2 separate regions of the Homo sapiens genome follow, and region 1 is linked to region 2. Evidence: fine-mapped expression QTL. Tissue or cell type: whole blood. Region 2 holds a variant in brackets; the other region holds the start of a gene. All regions are shown on one strand. Distances are between the middles of the regions.

What was found. PIP is the estimated chance that this variant, and not a neighbour inherited with it, causes the effect.
Region 1: FEZ1 starts here. The variant in region 2 is fine-mapped to the expression of FEZ1 in whole blood (INTERVAL, PIP above 0.99).

The regions. Positions count from the first base shown.
Region 1 is chr11:125,492,542-125,501,734 of GRCh38, reverse strand. FEZ1 (fasciculation and elongation protein zeta 1) reads left to right here and starts at 5,470. Exons shown (of 10, transcript NM_005103.5): 1 at 5,470-5,614. LOC403312 (putative uncharacterized protein MGC39545) reads right to left here and starts at 6,521. Exons shown (of 2, transcript NR_164146.1): 1 at 6,120-6,521; 2 at 2,209-5,227. RefSeq lists a silencer at 5,283-5,532 and enhancers at 5,407-5,908, 5,909-6,412, 6,915-7,418.
Region 2 is chr11:125,526,694-125,535,966 of GRCh38, reverse strand. No RefSeq gene overlaps it. Among named protein-coding and RNA genes, the nearest start is that of FEZ1, 35 kb to the right of the region's middle. RefSeq lists a silencer at 1,440-1,734 and a cis regulatory region at 2,823-3,296. The variant G/AG (reference allele first, on the strand shown) is at 4,741.

The sequences.
Region 1 (9,193 bases), 34 kb after region 2:
CTCCTGACCTCAAGTGATCTGCCCATCTCAGCCTTCCACAGTGCTGGGATTACAGGCGTGAGCCACAGTACCTGGTCACATCCCAACTTTCCTAAGGTTTAACCCATTCCAGCATTAGCTCTAAATCTAAATCTCATCTATTACAAATATAAAATCTAAAAGTTCCAAATCTCATCATTTAAATCAGGTATGGGTGAAACTCTAGGTGTGATACATTCTGGGGCAAAATTCCTCTCCCATTGTGGACCTATGAAATTAGAAATCAAATGATTTGTTTCCAAAATAGAGTGGTAGAGCAGACATTGGATGGACATTCCCCTTGCAGAAGGGAGAAAATGAGGGCTGGGCACAGTGGCTCTTGCCTATAATCTTAGTCCTTTGGGAGGCTGAGGTGGGAGGATCCCTTGAGGCCAAGAGTTTGAGACCAGCCTGGGCAACATAGTGAGACCCCATTTCTACAAAAAAAATTAAAAAAACATTTTTGAAAGAGAGAAAATGGAAGGAAAACAGGGGGTCATTAGTCCAAAGCAAGCTTGTAGAACAGCAGGGGAAGTTCCATTAGGTTTCGAGGCCTGAGAAAAATCCCTTATGGTTCGATGCTCCATCCTCTGGATCCAGGGCAGTGGGCCCCATCCTAAGAGTCATTCTTTCTTTTTCTTGAAGGATAACCCATGTTTGCTGCCAAGAACGTACATCAGCCTATTTTCTGCCTGTGGAATTTCAGAGGTCTAAGACTTGTCCTTCATTTCATCTCCGTCCTTTTCATTCCAGGCTGACAGTGTTTCTGTTGGTATAAAATTCTCAGAAACCATGTTGGTCTCCTGTGTAACTTGCTACTTAGGAGTGAAAGGGATCCACACCATCATTCCTTCTTGCATTTTACTATAAGCAGCAAGGAGAAACCTGGCCAAATCTCCTACACTTTGCCTGGAAATCTCAGCTAAATATACAAGTTCATCGCTTACAAGTTCTACTTGCCTTCCAAGAGCAGGACAAAATTCAGCCAAGTTCTCTGCCACTCTATAACACAGTTTGTCTTTTGTTCAGTTTCTAACAACAGTTCCTCATTTCCATCTTAGACCTTACCAGAATCACCTTTAACATTCATATTCCTATTTGTTATAATAATATATGTATTCTCTATGACCGTAGAAACTTTCTCTACAGTCTCCTCATTTCTGAAGCCTCACTAGAATTGCCCTTAATATTCATAATTATACCAACAGTCTCTTTGGGGCAATATAGGCTTTTTCTGTCATGTGTCTCAAACTTCTTCCAGCCTCTTTGCATTACGATGTTCCAAAGGCACTTCCACATTTTTAAATATTTGTTACAGCAGCATCCCACTTTCTACTACCAAAATTTGTACTAGTTTCCTAGGCCTGCCACGACAAATGATCTTTAAATAGAAATTTATGGTTTCATGGTTCTAGAGGCTGGAAGTCCAAAATCAAGCTGTCAGCAGGGCCATGCTACCTACTGAAGGTCCTGGGGAAGAATCTTTTCTTGCCTCATTCTAGCTTTGGGTGGTTCCTGGCAATCCTTGGTGTCATTTGGCTTGTACCTGAATTACTCCAATCTCTGCCTCCTTTCCTATGCATGCTCTCCTCTTGTATTTTTTGTTTTTGTTTTTGACATAGTCTTGCTTTGTCACCTGGGCTGGAGTACAGTGGCATGATCTCAGCTCACTGCAACCTGCGCCTCCCCGGTTCTAGCGATTCTCCTTCCTCAGCCTCCCAGGTAGCTGGGATTATAGGTATGTGACACCACACCCTGCTAATTTTTTTTTTTTTTTAATTTTTAGTAGAGATGGGGTTTCGCCATGTTGTCCAGGCTGGTCTCGAACTCCTGACCACAGTTGATCTACTCACCTCCCAAAGTGCTAGGATTACAGGTGTGAGCCACCATGCCCAGCCTCCTCTCCTCTTCTTATAAGGACACCAGTCATTGGATTTAGGGCCTACCCGAATCTAGTATGACCTCATCATAACTGATTACATCTGTAAAAGTCACATTCTGAGGTTCTGAGTAGACACAAATTTTAGGAAAATACCATTCAATCCACTGCAGGTTCTAAGCAGCAGAGTTTGGAAATCAACATACTAAACATGGAACCTCTTGAAAGCATGCCTTCATTTTTAGCTCCCCAGCTTCTAGCCTAGGTCATGGAATGCAACCAATGCTTGCTGGAATTTGTACACCGATGTTGACAGCAGCATTATTTTTTTATTCTTTCTTTCTCACTCTAATCCCATGACAGATTAGTAGCATTATTCACAATAGCCAAAAGGTGGAAACAATCCAAATGTCCATGGGCAGATGAATAGATAAACAAAATGTAGTATATACATACCATGGAATATTATTTACCTTAAAAAGAAAAGAAATTCTGACATTGTTGCAACATAGATTAACCTTGAAAACATTGTGCTAAGTGAAATAAGTCAGATACAAAAAACAAATATTGTATAATTACACTTACATGAGGTACTTAGAATAGTCAAATTCTTAGAGACAAAATTAGAATAGTGGTTACCAGGGGCTGGGGAAGGGAGTACTGGGGAGTTAGTGTTTAATGGATACAGAGTTTCTGTTTGGATAACAAAATTTCTGTAGATGAATAGTGGTGGTGGTTACACAGCAATGTGAATGTGTTTAATACCAGTGAATTGTACACTTAAAAATGGTTAAAATAGTAATTTTTATGTTATATATATCTTACTACAATAAAATAAGTGTTTGCTGGAAGAATAACTGGGCTCATGTTCAGGGATTTCTCATCCTAGGTACCTAGCCTAGGCTACTTGTCCTCAGCTTTCAGTTTCTTCATAGCCTCACAAAAATAACCACAGAATCCACTAATTGGTTTCTTATTATATGCCAGGCACTGTGCTAAGCATTTTGCATGCATTATATTACTTAATATGCATAACAACAACCTTGTAGTAGATATTGGCATCCAACAGCAGATATTGGCATCTCCATTTTACAGATGAGAAAACTGAGGTACAGAGAGGATAACTAACAAGGTCACCAGCTGAAGACCAAGTTCTTTATCACTTTCAGTACTTCACAAGCTTCTCTCAAATCTGTTTGTCCCATGCTCTGAAGATCTAGACAAAAGATGGCCTCAAATTAGCCAAGACATATATATATATACATATATATACACATATATATATACACACACACACATATATATACACACACACATATATATATACACACACACATATATAGGACATCTATATGAGACATATATATGGGACATCTATATGAGACATACATGTGGGACATCTATATGAGACATACATGTGGGACATCTATATGAGACATACATGTGGGACATCTATATGAGACATACATGTGGGACATCTATATGAGACATACATGTGGGACATCTATATGAGACATACATGTGGGACATCTATATGAGACATACATGTGGGACATCTATATGAGACATATATGTGGGACATCTATATGAGACATATATGTGGGACATCTATATGAGACATATATGGGACATCTATATGAGACATATATATGGGACATCTATATGAGACGTATATATGGGACATCTATATGAGACATATATATGACATATATATGTGTGTGTGTATATATATACACACATACATACATATAGTGCCTTCTAATAAACCTGGAAGTACTTTACTCATATTCACTCCTTTAATCCCACAACAGGCCACAATAGAGTGGGGCACTATTATTTTCTTTCTTTTTTTTTTTTTTGAGTCGGAGTCTCGCTCTGTCACCCAGGCTGGAGTGCAGTGGCGCAATCTCGGCTCACTCCAAGCTCCGCCTCCTGGGTGCACGCCATTCTCAGCCTCCCGAGTAATTGGGACTACAGGCGCCCGCCACCACGCACAGCTGATTTTTTGTATTTTTGGTGGAGATGGGGTTTCACCGTGTTAGCCAGGATGGTCTCGATCTCCTGACCTCGTGATCCGCCCGCCTCGGCCTCCCAAAGTGCTGGGATTACAGGCGTGAGCCACCGCGCCCGGCGGGCACTATTATTTTCTTCATTTTACAGATGAGGAAATGAGCCACAGGGAAGTTAACTAACCCAAGGTCACAAAACTGGGCATGATCCCAAGAAAGGAGATCTAGGGATCTTTTAACCAGCTACTCTTTGTGATTTATTTATTTATTTATTTACTTTTGAGACAAGGTCTTGCTGTCGCCCAGGCTGGAGTGCAGCTTCAACCTCTTGGGCTCAAGCGATCCTCCCACCTCATCCTCCAGTGTAGCTGGGGCTACCAGGATGGGCTACCAGGATGGGCCCACCATGCCTGGCTAATTTTTTTTTTTTTATAGAGATGGGGTCTCACTATGTTGCCTAGGCTGGTCTTGAACTCCTGGCCTCAAGTGATCCTCCTGCCTCAGCTTTCCAACATGTTGGGATTATAGGTGTGAGCCACCGTGCCTGGCCTTATGATTTCTTACAGGAAGACATCCTCTGTCTATTGCTCCCACAAAGGCAAATAGGCCAACGCTTCTTCTCATCTCATTGGGACATTATTCCTGTTTCCATCCTTCTCATGGTTGAAATGTCTGTGGAATGAATGCATAAACGAGCAAAAGAGACGCTCCCTGCCCCTTCCAGTTGAAGTCCTCAGTTCAGCCCAGAGGTACTTTGCCATCAGACAAAAGTACTTGGGGTTCTCCAAGCCGACATGCTTTTTCCAGTGCCTTCCTTCGATAATTACAGTTCTTGTGCTCTTAGTTGTGTGTATTCGTGAATTATTAGATTTTTTATTGACAACTTCTATAAGCACAGGCCTATGCACAGTAGACAAGATAAATTAATAATTTTTCACAAGACTCCAGGGACCCTTCTCATTTCAGCCTCTTGAATTTTCCTGTATTATCTCAAGTCCTCCTGGGCCTGAAACCTTCTCACTCAGATTTTTCAGCTGGATCCAGCTCCCACCCAGCATCTTTGGGCGAGAAAAGCTCTCCTGCCGGCCTCCTCATTTTTGGCTTGAGGTCCGAACCCAGTTGGAGCTGGGAGACGTCGCTGGGCCTGCCCGCCTCAGCCTCCAGTAGAGGAGAATGGGAAACTCGGAAAGTCCAAAAGGGTCTTTGAGTGTGTCTGCCGGCATCCGCCAGCAGCCATCGCCTGCATTTTATCCAGAAACTAGTGTCAGGCTTTGCGAGGTATCCATATTGGTAGTTATTGCACGCTTTCATCTTGGAGTTTCTGAATATTCATGAGGGAAGCAGAAAGGCCAATGTTAAAGAGGAGAGAAACAGAAATGCATAAATATTAATAAAGGCAAGCCCACGTGCTCGGAGGAAGGCTATGAATGTTAACGAGGGGATGACGTCCAGCTCCCGCGCGTGCCAGTTGGGTGGGTGCCCGAGCGCGGGCGCGCCCCCGGAGCCCGGGCACGAGCGCGGGGAAGGGGTGGGGTGGAGGCGGGAGCGGAGCCGGGCGCCGCCGGAGCTGCGCGGGGAGCGCTCGCTGGCTGGCTGGCTGGCTGGCTCTCCGCTGCGCTGCGCTGCGCTCCGGCCGCTCCCGCGGCCCGTGGATGGGGGTGTCCGGCTGAGCCCCGGGATCCGCCTCCCTCCGCCAGGACCCGCACAGGTGCCGTCGCGGGGGTTGACTTTAGTTAGGACCCGACTCACTGCTGGGGGTGGGGTCTGGTGGGGGTGGTAAGGAGGCCCCGGGATTCTCTGACAGGACGGTCTGGGGTCGCCGCAGCTCCCCTCACCTGGTCCCATTCTGGGATTAGAAAGGAACAACGGGAGGCCGTCGCCTTCCTGCCCAGCCCTTCAGGGAGCGCAGCTGGGACGCCGCGCCAGGCCCTGGAGATGTGGGATGATGGGCACTTCCAGTATCATCTCAGCATCGGCCCTCCAGCCAGGCCTGGTGTGTGTGTGTGTGTGTGTGTGTGTGTGTGTGTGTCCGCGTGTGTGTGCCCGCGTGTGTGCGCGCGTGTGAAGGCAGGGCGGCGAGGTATGGGGGCTGGGGGAAGAAGGGAACGCCGCCCGATCGCGCTGGGGCAGTGGGTCGGTACCTCGTCCCGGGACCGTTATCTGGTCCAGTCACCGTAAACGCCCCAAGATCATCTTTGTCCCTAAAAACTTACCCCCGACCCCGCTCGTGCCCCTCCCCAGAGTGCGGAGCCTTCCCCAGACCGCGCATTCCTGCAGTGTCAGAACCGCTGGCAGCGGCCGCAGACGCCGGGAGAGCGATTGTTTTACTACAGACGGGCGGGAGAAGGGACCGGGGCGGCTGCGCGGTGGCGGGGCGCGCTGCCGTCGGGTGGGCCCCGGGCTCTGGAATGCGGGGAGCAGTGTTTGACGGCGTCGAGGAGGTATCACAGCCCGCTCTTCTTCCCTTTTGCCTATCCCTTCTCTCCTCGCCGCTAGGCATCCCCGACTCTCATCCCTCTCCCGTGTCCGGGCTTGTTTGGCCGGAAGGGCAGTGGAGTGTGTATGCGGCCTGCACGGGATGAGTCCGGCTTCCTCAGAGTGCCAGCCATTGTGCTGCCTGGAGGAGGCTTTCTTTACCCCACCGGACTGGGGGGAGGAGGGGGATCTGAGATGGAGGTGAATGGAGCAGCGGGAGGAGGGGGAGGGGAGCAAGCAGAACCGCGAAGGGGTTGCTGATCCATATGCAACGAAATACTTTTTCTGTCAAAATGTGCACAAACATGCACACTGGGTGGGTTCTGCGGAGGAGCAGTGGGAAATCTGAAGGTGGATCAGTGCAGGGTAGGTTTTAGGGACGGATATGGGGGACGAGGCACGGAATCAGTTGATCTATGGACCAAGTGATGGGAAGAAGGAGATGGAATGGGGCTTGTGTGGAGGTGCCGAGGCCCAGCGGGGTTAGCGTGGTGAAATCTCCACCGCTCCGCTCCACTCGGGTCAGCTCAGCAAAGCAGGGACTGAGCATTTGTACCGCAGCCCCGAGATGCAGCGAGTGCATCATTGTGCTGCAGGGAGACGTTTATGCGTTTCCTACTGGGTCTCTGTTAAGCCCCGTGAGTGTCTTTTCTTTTCCAAATTACACCATCTATTGGGAGTGAAAATAAATGGAATAGATTGTAGGACAATCAGACTATAGTCCTGCGCTCTGTTCTGTGGTAAAGAGAAAAAGAAAAGGCGACCCTCCCATGGTTCCTTCTTTCTGCCATTTTCATGTATGTACGTATTTATTTTTGATCTTGGAAGTCTAAAGGGAATAAGCTATCGCTTGTATTAATCCTACTTTAAGGAAAAGAAGGCTCCCAGATGAGCTATGAATGAGGATGGTGCAAGCTTGCCAGGATGGAAAATAAGGTTGTTTCAGACATTTTAGTTGAAGGATGAAAGCACTCCGTGAAGAGAGGAGGGCGAAAGAAAGTGGGCTAAAGGAAGGAAGGCAGGGTCACCATCTAAGGAAGTGCTGCCAACCCCAATCCACAGAGCCCTCCTGGAGGCTATAGTGGGGCCAGTCAGAACGCCTGACTCTCATCTGTGCCACAGCCTGAGGTCTTTCCACAAATGCTGGATTCAGTTTGGGTGTTGAGTGACTAGTTTCCCAGCACTGGCTTTCACTTTAACTTCATCTCCAGATGGTCATTCATGCAGCACTTCTTGGCTCTTGGATAATGAGTTGACAAAAAACAATCAGTCTATATTATGGACTGTTTCAAATGAGCATGTGTCTGAACCCTAGAGCTGTGATATTCATTTCGTCTTTTATAATTTTCTAGATGAATCCATTTTCTCTACACTCTGCCTGGGCAGAGTGCTTTCAGCACACTCTTCCTGTTGCCAACACTCAAAACTCAGTCTTAGTCCTAGATTCTGGTTGGATTGGCCTCTTGTTGCTGGTTAATCATATAGACTGTGTCATTTCAAATCAGAAACCCCACTGGTGTCACCATCTGCTTCTCCCCTGTCATTCCCAGAGAAAAGTACAAATTTAAAGGCAGTGTAAATACCTGCAACACTATCGGATTGGCTTTCATATCTCTGTAAAATGGAACCCACGATCCAGGAACCTTTGAACAAATAAATTGAAAAAAGAAGCCTTAGTAAAAAAGATGCTAAAATTCTTTCAGCAATAGTTCTCTTGTTTGATAAGCATATTGAAGCATTGCACAGAGAATATCATGGCAGGGATAATTTTTCTTTTACTTGAAGCACTCCCACATCACCTTTCTTTCTTTCTTTCTTTCTTTCTTTCTTTCTTTCTTTCTTTCTCTCTTTCTTTCTTTCTTTCCTTCTTTCCTTCTTTCCTTCTTTCCTTCTTTCCTTCTTTCCTTCTTTCCTTCTTTCCTTCTTTCCTTCTTTCTTTCTTTCTTTCTTTCTTTCTTTCTTTCTTTCTTTCTTTCTTTCTTTCTTTCTTTTCTCTCTTTCTTTCTTTCTTTCTTTCTTGAGATGGAGTTTCGCTCTTGTTGCCCAGGCTGGAGTGCAATGGCATGATCTCGGCTCACTGCAACCTCTGCCTCTTGGGCTCAAGCGATTCTCCTGCCTCAGCCTCCCAAGTAGCTGGGATTACAGGCACCTGCCACCATGCTCAGCTAATTTTTTTTTTTTGTATTTTTAGTAGAGACAGGGTTTTGCCATGTTGGCCAGGCTGGTCTTGAACTCCTGACCTCAGGTGATCCACGCACCTCAGCCTCCCAAAGTGCTGGGATTACAGGCATGAGCCACTGTGCCCAGCCCCCACATCACATTTCTATGTAAGTTAGCTATCCTGGTTTTCCTAGAATTATTTTTAACTTTTTTTTTTTTTTTTTTAAAGATAGGGTCTCACTTTGTCACCCAGGCTGGCATACAGTAGTGTGATCATAGCTCACTATAGCCTCAAACTCATGGGCTCAACCAATCCTCCTGCCTCAGCCTCTCCAGTTGCTGGGATTACAGGTGTGAGCCACCGTGCCCAGCTTTGATTTTTCTAGAATGATTGATATTTATTGGATGCTTTCTATATTCTGCACATTGTACTTAACACTTCAAAGATGATCTCATTTAGTCCAAAAAGTAATCTTCAAGGGAAGCACTGTTTTAAACTCCATTTTATAGATGATGAAATTGAGGCACAGTGAGGTTGATAACTTGCCCAAAGTCTCCCAACTAGGAGTGACAGGACCAGGACAGGAACCCAAAGCCTATGCTCTTAGCCATCACAGAGTACTGCCTTAATCAACACAAATCCCTGGGCTGT
Region 2 (9,273 bases):
GAAGCAGAAGCAGTGGTGGGGTGGGGGACAGGGTTGGAAGAAGCCTCCATGTCATAGATGGATTCAAAGATTTTCTGTTTGGCAATTGGTTGAAAGAGTTTATCTATAGACCTGGAATCAATAGAATGAAGTGTCTGGGTTAGGATAAAAGGTCATGGAGATCAATATTCCTTTTATGCAGATGAAGCTCCCAGGCAACAGGCTTCAGAGATAATAGATTGTAAATGTTTCTTATCAGACTTAAAAAGGTGCCAGACTTTTGGTTAATTCTCTCCTGGATCAGGAAAAAGACCTGGAAAGGGAAGAGGATTCTGTACAGAATGCAGATATCCCCGTGAGAGACAGCTTTACAGGGCCATTTCAAAATGTGTCAAAGAAATGTATTTTAGGGTAAAATACTTCAATTTCTTTCAGGGCCTGCTATCTGTTATGTGATGCTATAATAGAGTCAGTTTGGCATTTAGTGTCTTATCGTTACAAAGAATCTGTTTGATGTCAGTCTTAGGATGACAGTCTTAAGATCTGTGTCTTAATGTTAATGTTGGTCAGTTGTCCCTGAATTTCAAAGGGAGGAGGGTACAATGAGGCATATTTAACCCCCCTTCCCATCATGGCCTGGACTAGTTTTTCAGGTTAACTTTGGAATGCCCTTGAGCAAGAGGAGGGGTCCATTCCACTGGTTGGGGGGCTTAGAATTTTACATTTGGTTTTGCAAGAGTCTGTTTTTAAGCTGGGAGAAAATAGAATATTTTTATAAAAGGAAAGATCCAGAAACAAAGGAAAGTTGAAGAAATCAGGATGATAACCTAGAGGAAGATTCTTGAAGAGGTTTGAGAGAGGATAAAATTAAAAGTTCTGTGGAGTCTTTTCTATTTCTTAAGGCAAGGGGTGGGGAATTTATCAGAAATGGAGATTCTAAGGATTGACAGCAGAGATTTTGATTTAGTATATCAGGGATGGAACACAGACATTAACACTTTAAACCAGCCCTCCATGTCTTTGCTACATAGGTAGTCCAACAGTGCTCTGAGGCAGTGATAAATGCAGAAAGGGTAAAGTGCTTGGAGTAAAAGGATTTTTGTTATCATCCTTGATTTGCCCTTTTACTTACCATCAGGAAGGCTTTGTGTTTCTCGTTTTGGTTTGGTTTGGTTTATGTTGTTTTAGTGCCCATGCATCATATACTGTGCAAGCCTCTAGAAAAGGTTATTTAATTTCTCCAAGCTTCAGATCTTCATCTGTAATAATATTATCTGCCCCAGAGTAATGCTGAGAATCAAATTAAATTATATATGAGGCTATCTTCTTCTTCTGGCCAAGATGTAGTAACAGAGACTAGATTTACCCTCCTACAGGAAACAACTACAAAAACCTGACAACATACATGAAATAATAGTTTTCAGATATTGGACATCAGGTGATAGAGGACAGCGATCCCTGAGATGGGAGAAACAAATGAGATGATCCCTACTTCTGCCCCATCTTACTGTATGGAAGATACAGCACAGAGAGTGGAAACCCAGGTGGAACCTAGCAGTCTCCCTGAATTTACAAGATGGAATTGGGAGTCTTGGGAGGCAAGGTGGCTTAAGTTTGCAGGGCAGAATGCTGAAGAGGAAAGAGTGCAGAGATAGGGGTGGAAGCTCCAAGATCATGTCTTCAGCTGAGTATACATCAGTGTAAGCATATGAGGAAACTACCTTAGTTTGAGGAAGAGACACTAAAATGATTCAAGGAAATAATTCCTAAACTTCTCAAAGAGCTAGGAATATTTTGCATTTCCATAAGCCAGAAAGGAAATATATATATCATAATTATGTATAATAATTTTATACATCAATTATAATTATTTAAACAGGGTCTTACTCTGTCACCCAGGCTGGAGTGCAGTGGCATGAAATGGCTGACTGCAGCCTTTACCTCCCAGACTCAAGCAGTCCTCCCACCTTGGCAGCCCGAGTTGCTGAGACTGTGGGCATGGGCCACCATATTCAGCTAATTCTTGTATTTTTTGTGGAGACAGAGCTTCACTATGTTGCCCAGGCTGGTCTTGTACTCCCGGGCTCAAGCAATCTGCCTGCCTCAGCCTCCCAAAGTTCTGGGATTACAGGGATGAGCCACTGCACTTGGCATATATATACATAGATATACACACACATATACATATATATATATAATTAGTAAATGATATTGTTTAAAATAATTCCTAAAAGAGTATTTCCTCAGGACTGGGAAAAATTAGTCTTGTAATAAAGGCTGCTCTGGTCCTCCCTAACAAAGTTTAAACATCATCCCCATCCTTGAAAGTAAGTGTTCCAAGCAAGTTAACTGTATCCCTGAAAAAAAGCTCAAGAATATGTATATAAATATAAAAATATCCACCTCCCAACAAGAAAACATTCAGAGCATCTTACATTCAACCAAAAATGCCCAGACATGGAAAAATCAGGAAAATATGACATATAATGAGAATAATCAATCAATGGAAACAGATCTGTAAATGACACAAATGATATAATAACTAAAGGCATAAAAGAGTTACTTTAACTGTATTTCATATGTTTAATAAGGTAGAGAAAAAATGAGCAAGTTAAATAGACTGGAAGGTTTTTAAAGGTCCAAATTGAATTAGAGACTTAAACTACAATGTCTAAAATGAAAAATATGTTATTCATTCAGAGCAAGATTCTGTCTCAAAAAAAAAGTTTTTAACTTCTTTTTTTCCCACTTTTTTGGGGGATATCAGCTCCAGCTTATTGAGTTAATGGCACTTCTCAGTTCCTAGTATACTCCCCTCCCTTTCTGTGTCCTTAACTATAAAATGTTCCAAGTGTGTGATATATGTCCATTTTATTGGAGTATCTTCTCGTGAAATGTGAACTCTTTTATGATATGTATATATTTTTAATTTATATAAATTATGCTATAGGTCTCAGCTTGTTTCTTACTTTTTTTCACTCAGCAGTGTTTTGAAGATCATTCAGGTTGATATGTGGACGTTTAGTTCACTAATCTCATTGCTGCCTAAGGAACCAGTTTGTCCTGACAGTACTGCAGGCCCCAAGGAACCCTTAGAGCATTATCTGTAAAGTCAGATGTTTGTAGGCCCCAGAGCAGATTAACTGGGTGGAGATGCAAGTAGTTGCGGCCATATGGCAACGCAGGACATGTTGCAAGACAACCAAATTCTTCAAGAGAGGCCAGGAATCAGGATTTTTGCAAGAAATCTCCTGATTTTTTCAATGTTGGAAAAACTGAAGGTCAAACAAAATATTTCTGCAAGCTCAATTTAGCCATTTTCTAACCTTCACATTAAAACATTTGAATCAGAGAATGAGATCAGATTTGTGTTTCAAAAATTAAAGAAAAGATGGACTAGAATAGAACAGAGGAGTCCAAAGATCATGAGTTGAGGTATAAATATGATTGAATTGAAGGGCCTATGGGCCGTTAAGGTGAAGATTATTGGAAACACAGACCTATCTTCCTGAAAATGTTGTGAGGAGTGGGGATTTTTTACGATATAAATCATTATTACATAGATTTGGGCATACTGTGATTCAAGTTAAAATGTATAAGTCGGCTGGGCACAGTGGCTCACGCTTGTAATCCCAACACTTTGGGAGGCTGACGTGGGTGGATCACCTGAGGTCAGGAGTTTGAGACCAGCCAGACCAATATGGTGAAACCCCATCTCTACTACAAAAAAAAAAAAAAAAATTAGCTGGGCGTGGTGGCGGGCGCCTGTAGTCCCAGCTACTCGGGAGACTGAGACAGGAGAATTGCTTGAACCCAGGAGGCAAAGGTTGCAGTAAGCTGAGATTGCGCCACTGCACTCCAGTCTGGGTGACAGAGTGAGACTCCGTCTCAAAAATAATAATAATATAATGTATAAGTCATAATGTTGACATTTTAAATATATTTAAAATATTATTTTATATATTTGTTCTTTCATTTAACAAAACATATCAGTAAAATTCATACTCATAACTTTGCACAAGTGAAGTTCTATGCTTAAACACTTGGCACATTTTCTTTTGTAGTAGTTAAAACTGTGGTTTGGTGTCAGACTACTAAGTTAAAATCTCTGAATTATTGACTATATGTATATCTTTGGATAAGTTAGTTAACCTGTCTTTGTTTTGGTTTTATCATCTGTAAAAAAAAGGCTCTTTTAAAAGCTGACTTCTCAGGCCAGGCACGGTCTCACGCCTGTAATCCCAGCACTTTGGGAGGCTAAGGCGGGTGGATGTAGGCAGATCATTTGAGGTCAGGAGTTCGAGACCAGCCTGGTCAACATGGTGAAACACCGTCTGTACTAAAAATACACACACACACACACACACACACACACACACACACACAAATTATCCAGACGTGGTGGCGCATGCCTGTGGTCCCAGCTACCCGGGAGGCTGAGGCAGGAGAATTGCTTGAACCCAGGAAGCAGAGGTTGCAGTGAGCCGAGATCACTCCATTGCACTCCAACCTGGGTGACAGAGCGAGATCCTGTCTTAAGAAAAAAAAATTAGGCCGGGCGCAGTGGCTCATGCCTGTAATCCCAGCACTTTGGGAGGCCAAGGTGTGCGGATCACCTGAGGTCAGGAGTTTGAGACCAGCCTGGCCAACATGGTGAAACCCCGTCTCTACTAAAACTACAAAAATTAGCTGAGATCGCGCCACTGTACTCCAGCCTGGGCAACAGAGCGAGACATCATCTCAAAAAAAAAAAAAAAAAAA[G/AG]TGACTTCTCATGGTACTAGCATAAAGACAGATATATAGACCAATGGAATAAAATAGAGTCTGAAAATAAACCTTGCATGTAAAGTCAGATGATTTTCAACAAGGTACCAAGACCATTCAATGGGGTAAGAACAGTCTTTTCAACACATGAGGCTGGGAAAACTGAATATCCACATGCAAAAGAATGAAGCTGGACCTCTACTTTACACCATATACAGAAATTAAGTCAGGCCAGGTGGAGTGGCTCACACCTGTAATCCCAGAAATTTGGTAGGCTGAGGCGGGTGGATGGCTTGAGCTCAGGAACTCGAGACCATCCTGGGAAACATGGCGAAACTCCATCTCCACACACACACACACACACACACACACACACACACACACAAATTAGCCAGGCATGGTGGTGTTCACCTGTAGTCCCAGCAACTCTTGCGGCTGAGGTGGGAAGATCACTTGAGCCAGGGAGGCGGAGGTTGCAGTGAGCTGAGTTTGTGCCACTGCTCTCCAGCCTGGTTGACAGAATGAGACCCTGTCTCAAAAAGAAAAAAAAAAAAGTCAAAGTGAAACAAATACCTAAATTTAAGAGTTCAAACTATAAAACCCTAAGAAGAAAACATAAACTAAAAACTTCATGACATAGGATTCTACAATAATTTTTTAGATAAGACATGAAAAGCACAGGCAGCAACAACAAAAATAGATAAATTACCCAATCTCTATTAAAAAAAATACAAAAAAATTAGCCAGGCATAGTGGCGGGCACCTGCAGTCCCAGCTACGCGGGAGGCTGAGGCAGGAGAATGGCATGAACCCGGAAGGTGGAGCTTGCAGTGAGCCGAGATCACACCACTGCACTCCAGCCTGGGCAACAGAGCAAGACTGTCTCAAAAAAAAAAAAATAGATACATTGAACTACATGATAATTTAAGACTTGTGCATCAAAGGACACTATCAACAGAAAAGACAACCTATGGAATGAGAGAAAATATTTGCAAATCATGTGTCTGGTAAGGGGTTACTATCCAGAATACATAAAGAACTCTCCCAACGTAACAACAAAAAACAAACAACCAGAGTAAAAAACGGTCAAATGACTTGAATAGACATTTCTTCAGTAATGACCAATAAACACATGAAAAGATGCTCAACACTACTAATTATTAGAGAAATGCAAATTGAAACCACAATGAGTTACCACTTCACTCCCATTAGGATGGCTACTATATAGATAAACAACAATGACAACAACAAAAACAAAACAGAAAATGACAAGCATTGACATGGATGTGGAGAAATTGGAACCCATGTACATTGCTGGTGGGAAGGTAAAATGGAGAAGCTATTGTAGAAAACACTATGGTGCCTCCTCAAAAAATTAAACATAGAATTACCCTATGATCCAGCAATTCTACTTTTAGGTGTATACCCAAAAAAAGTGAAGGTAAGAATTCAAACAGATATTTGTGTCTGTTCATAGTAGCAGCATTATTCACAACAGCCAAAATGTGGAAACAACCCAAGTGTCCACTAACGATGAATAGAGAGATGAAATGTGGCACATACAAGCAATAGGATATTATTCAAGGAATTAAAGCCTTTAATTTATTTTTATTTTTTATTATTTTTTTTTTTAGAGACAGAGTCTTGCTCTGTCAAACAGACTGGAGTGTAGTGGAAGAATCATGGCTCACTGGAGCGTTGACCTCCTCGGCTTAGGCAATCCACCACCTCAGCCTCCTGAGTAGCTGGGACTAGAGGTGTGCACCACCACCTCCAGCTAATTTTTAAATTTTTCTTTTGTAGAGACGGGGTTTTTCTATGTTGACCAGGCTGGTTTTGAACTTCTGGCCTCAAGCATTTTTCCTGCCTCAGCCTCCCAAAGTGCTGAGGTTATAGATGTGAGCCACCGTGCCTGCCCAAAGCCTTTAATATTATTAAAGAAATTACAGCCTGTAGAAAAAGCAAACTGTTTTCTCATCTGCTGTTTTCACATCTGCTCTCACATCATACCATAAAAGACTTCTGTGATCTCTCATCACCAAGAAATGAATGGAGATTTCTCCCCACCAACAACCAATCAATTAGTTCTGCAGCAGGGTCTTCAGCTGACACCAGCTGAGTATCCTCTAATTCAATTCAATTCTGACGCTGTTTACCTGGAGATGGCATTAGATCCCACCGGTTGAGGGCTCAGTCCCGCAAGACTGCCCACTACTTCTGATGCCAATTGTAAGCTCCATATTGTTTTACTCGTGCTTCTGACCAGTCAACAATACATTGGGCTTCCTAAAACACTCTCAATGGGTTTGATTTATTTGCTAAAGCAGCTCACAGAACTCAGGGAAACACATTTACTAGTTTATTGTAAAAGACATTACAAAGGTTACAGATAAAGGGATACATACGGTGAGTTATGAGGGAAGGCACATGGTGCTTCCATGCCCTCTCTGGGTATGGCACCCTCCAGGAACCTTCATGCATTTAGCTATCCAGAACATCCCCGAAGCCACCTGTTCTGGGTTTTTATCGAAGCTTCATTGTGTAGGCATGATTGATTAAATCATTGGCCGTGAGTGATCAACTTGACCTTCAACCCCCACCCCTTCCCAGAGGTTTGGGGGTGAGGTTGAAAGTCCCAACCCTCTAATGATGCTTTGGTCTTTGCAGTGACCAGCCCCCATCCCGAAGTTACCCAGGGCCTGCCAGTCACCAGTCAACTCATTAGTATACATAAAGACACTGATGTCTTTGGAGGTTCCAAGGATATTAGGAGTTGTATGACAGGAGACAGGGACAAAAACCAAATATATATTTCACAGTATCCCATAAAGCCTCAAAGGAATTGGAAAAGAAATTCTGATCCATGCTACAATATGAATAAGCCTTGAAAATATTTTGCTAAATGAAAGAAGCCAGACACAAAAGGACAAATATTGTATGACTCCTTTATTTTTTTGAGATGGAGTCTCGCTCTGTCACCCAAACTGGAGTGCAGTGGCGCGATCTCGGTTCACTGCAAGCTCCGCCTCCTGGGTTCCCACCATTCTCCTGCCTCAGCCTCCCAAGTAGCTGGAACTACAGGCACCTGCCACCATGCCTGGCTAATTTTTTGTATTTTTAGTAGAGACGGGGTTTCACCATGTTAGTCAGGATGGTCTCGATCTCCTGACCTCGTGATCTGCCCGCCTCGGCCTCCCAAAGTGCTGGGATTACAGGTGTGAGCCACAGCGCCCAGCCCTGTATGACTCCTTTTATATAGGGTAGCTAGAATAGTCAAATTCATGGAGACAGCAAGAACAATGGTGGTGTCCCCAGGGCTGGGGCAAGGGGGTAATGGGATGTTATTGTTTAATAGCTACAGATTTTCAGTTGGGGATGATGAAAAGTTCTGCAGATGGATAGTAGCACTGGTTGTACAACAATGTGATGTACTTAATGCCACTGAACTATATACATTTTAAACTGGTTAAAATGGTAAAATTTTATGTTATATATATTTTAACATAGTTTTAAAAAAAAGAACAACAACAACAAAAAAACAAAGACAGGGATAGTGGCTCAAGCCTGTAATCCCAGCACTTTGGGAGGCCGAGGTGGAGAGATCCCTCGAGGTTAGCAGTTCGAGACCAGCCTGGCCAACATGGTGAAACCCTGTCTCTACTAAAAATACAAAAATGAGCCAGGCATGGTGGGGCATGCCTGTAATCCCAGCTACTCGGGAGGCTGAGGCAGGAGAATTGCTTGAACCTGGGAGGCAGAGGTTGCAGTGAGCCGAGATCACACCACTGCACTCCAGCCTGGGTGACAAACGGAGACTCCATCTCAAAAAAAAACAAAAAAAAAAAAAAAAAAAAAAACAAAACTAATAGCCATTTCCCAAACATTACCAGCCCAATTTGTTGATAGCATGATGCTGAGTTTACTGTTTACCATAGTAAGGAAGAACACCACCTGAACAGAGCTTTGGGAATTCTCAGAAGGGGAAGGTAAGACCAAAATTTATTGATCCAGTAACTGGCCACTGAATATTAAAAATTTTTTTATTGAGAATTAGAAGTTTGGTTTAAGGCATTTCTTTCAATACAGGGTACTAGATAAGGGTTGAGTAGGAATCATAACACAACTGTAGGAGTGGAGGGAATGTTTCCCTCTCCCTACAAAGGTTTGACTCTGCTGAAATTAAATGACAATAGATTAACATGAGAAAAGGCATACAAATTTATTAATGTGCATAAGAATGGGAGTCATACAAAATATGAGACTCAAACAAGGACAAGATTGTTGAGGCTTAAATAACCTCTTCAGGGGTGTGCAGTGGTATACACCTGTAGTTTCAGCTAATTGAGAGGCTGAGGCAGGAGGATCCCTTGAGCCCAGGAAATGGAGACCAGCCTACACAGCAAGATCCTGTCTCAATAAATAAATAAATAAGAAAAGTTGCATGCTGGGCTTAATACCTAGGTTGATAGGTGCAGCAAACCACTGTGGCACACGTTTACCTATGCAACAAACCTGTACATCCTGTACGTGTAC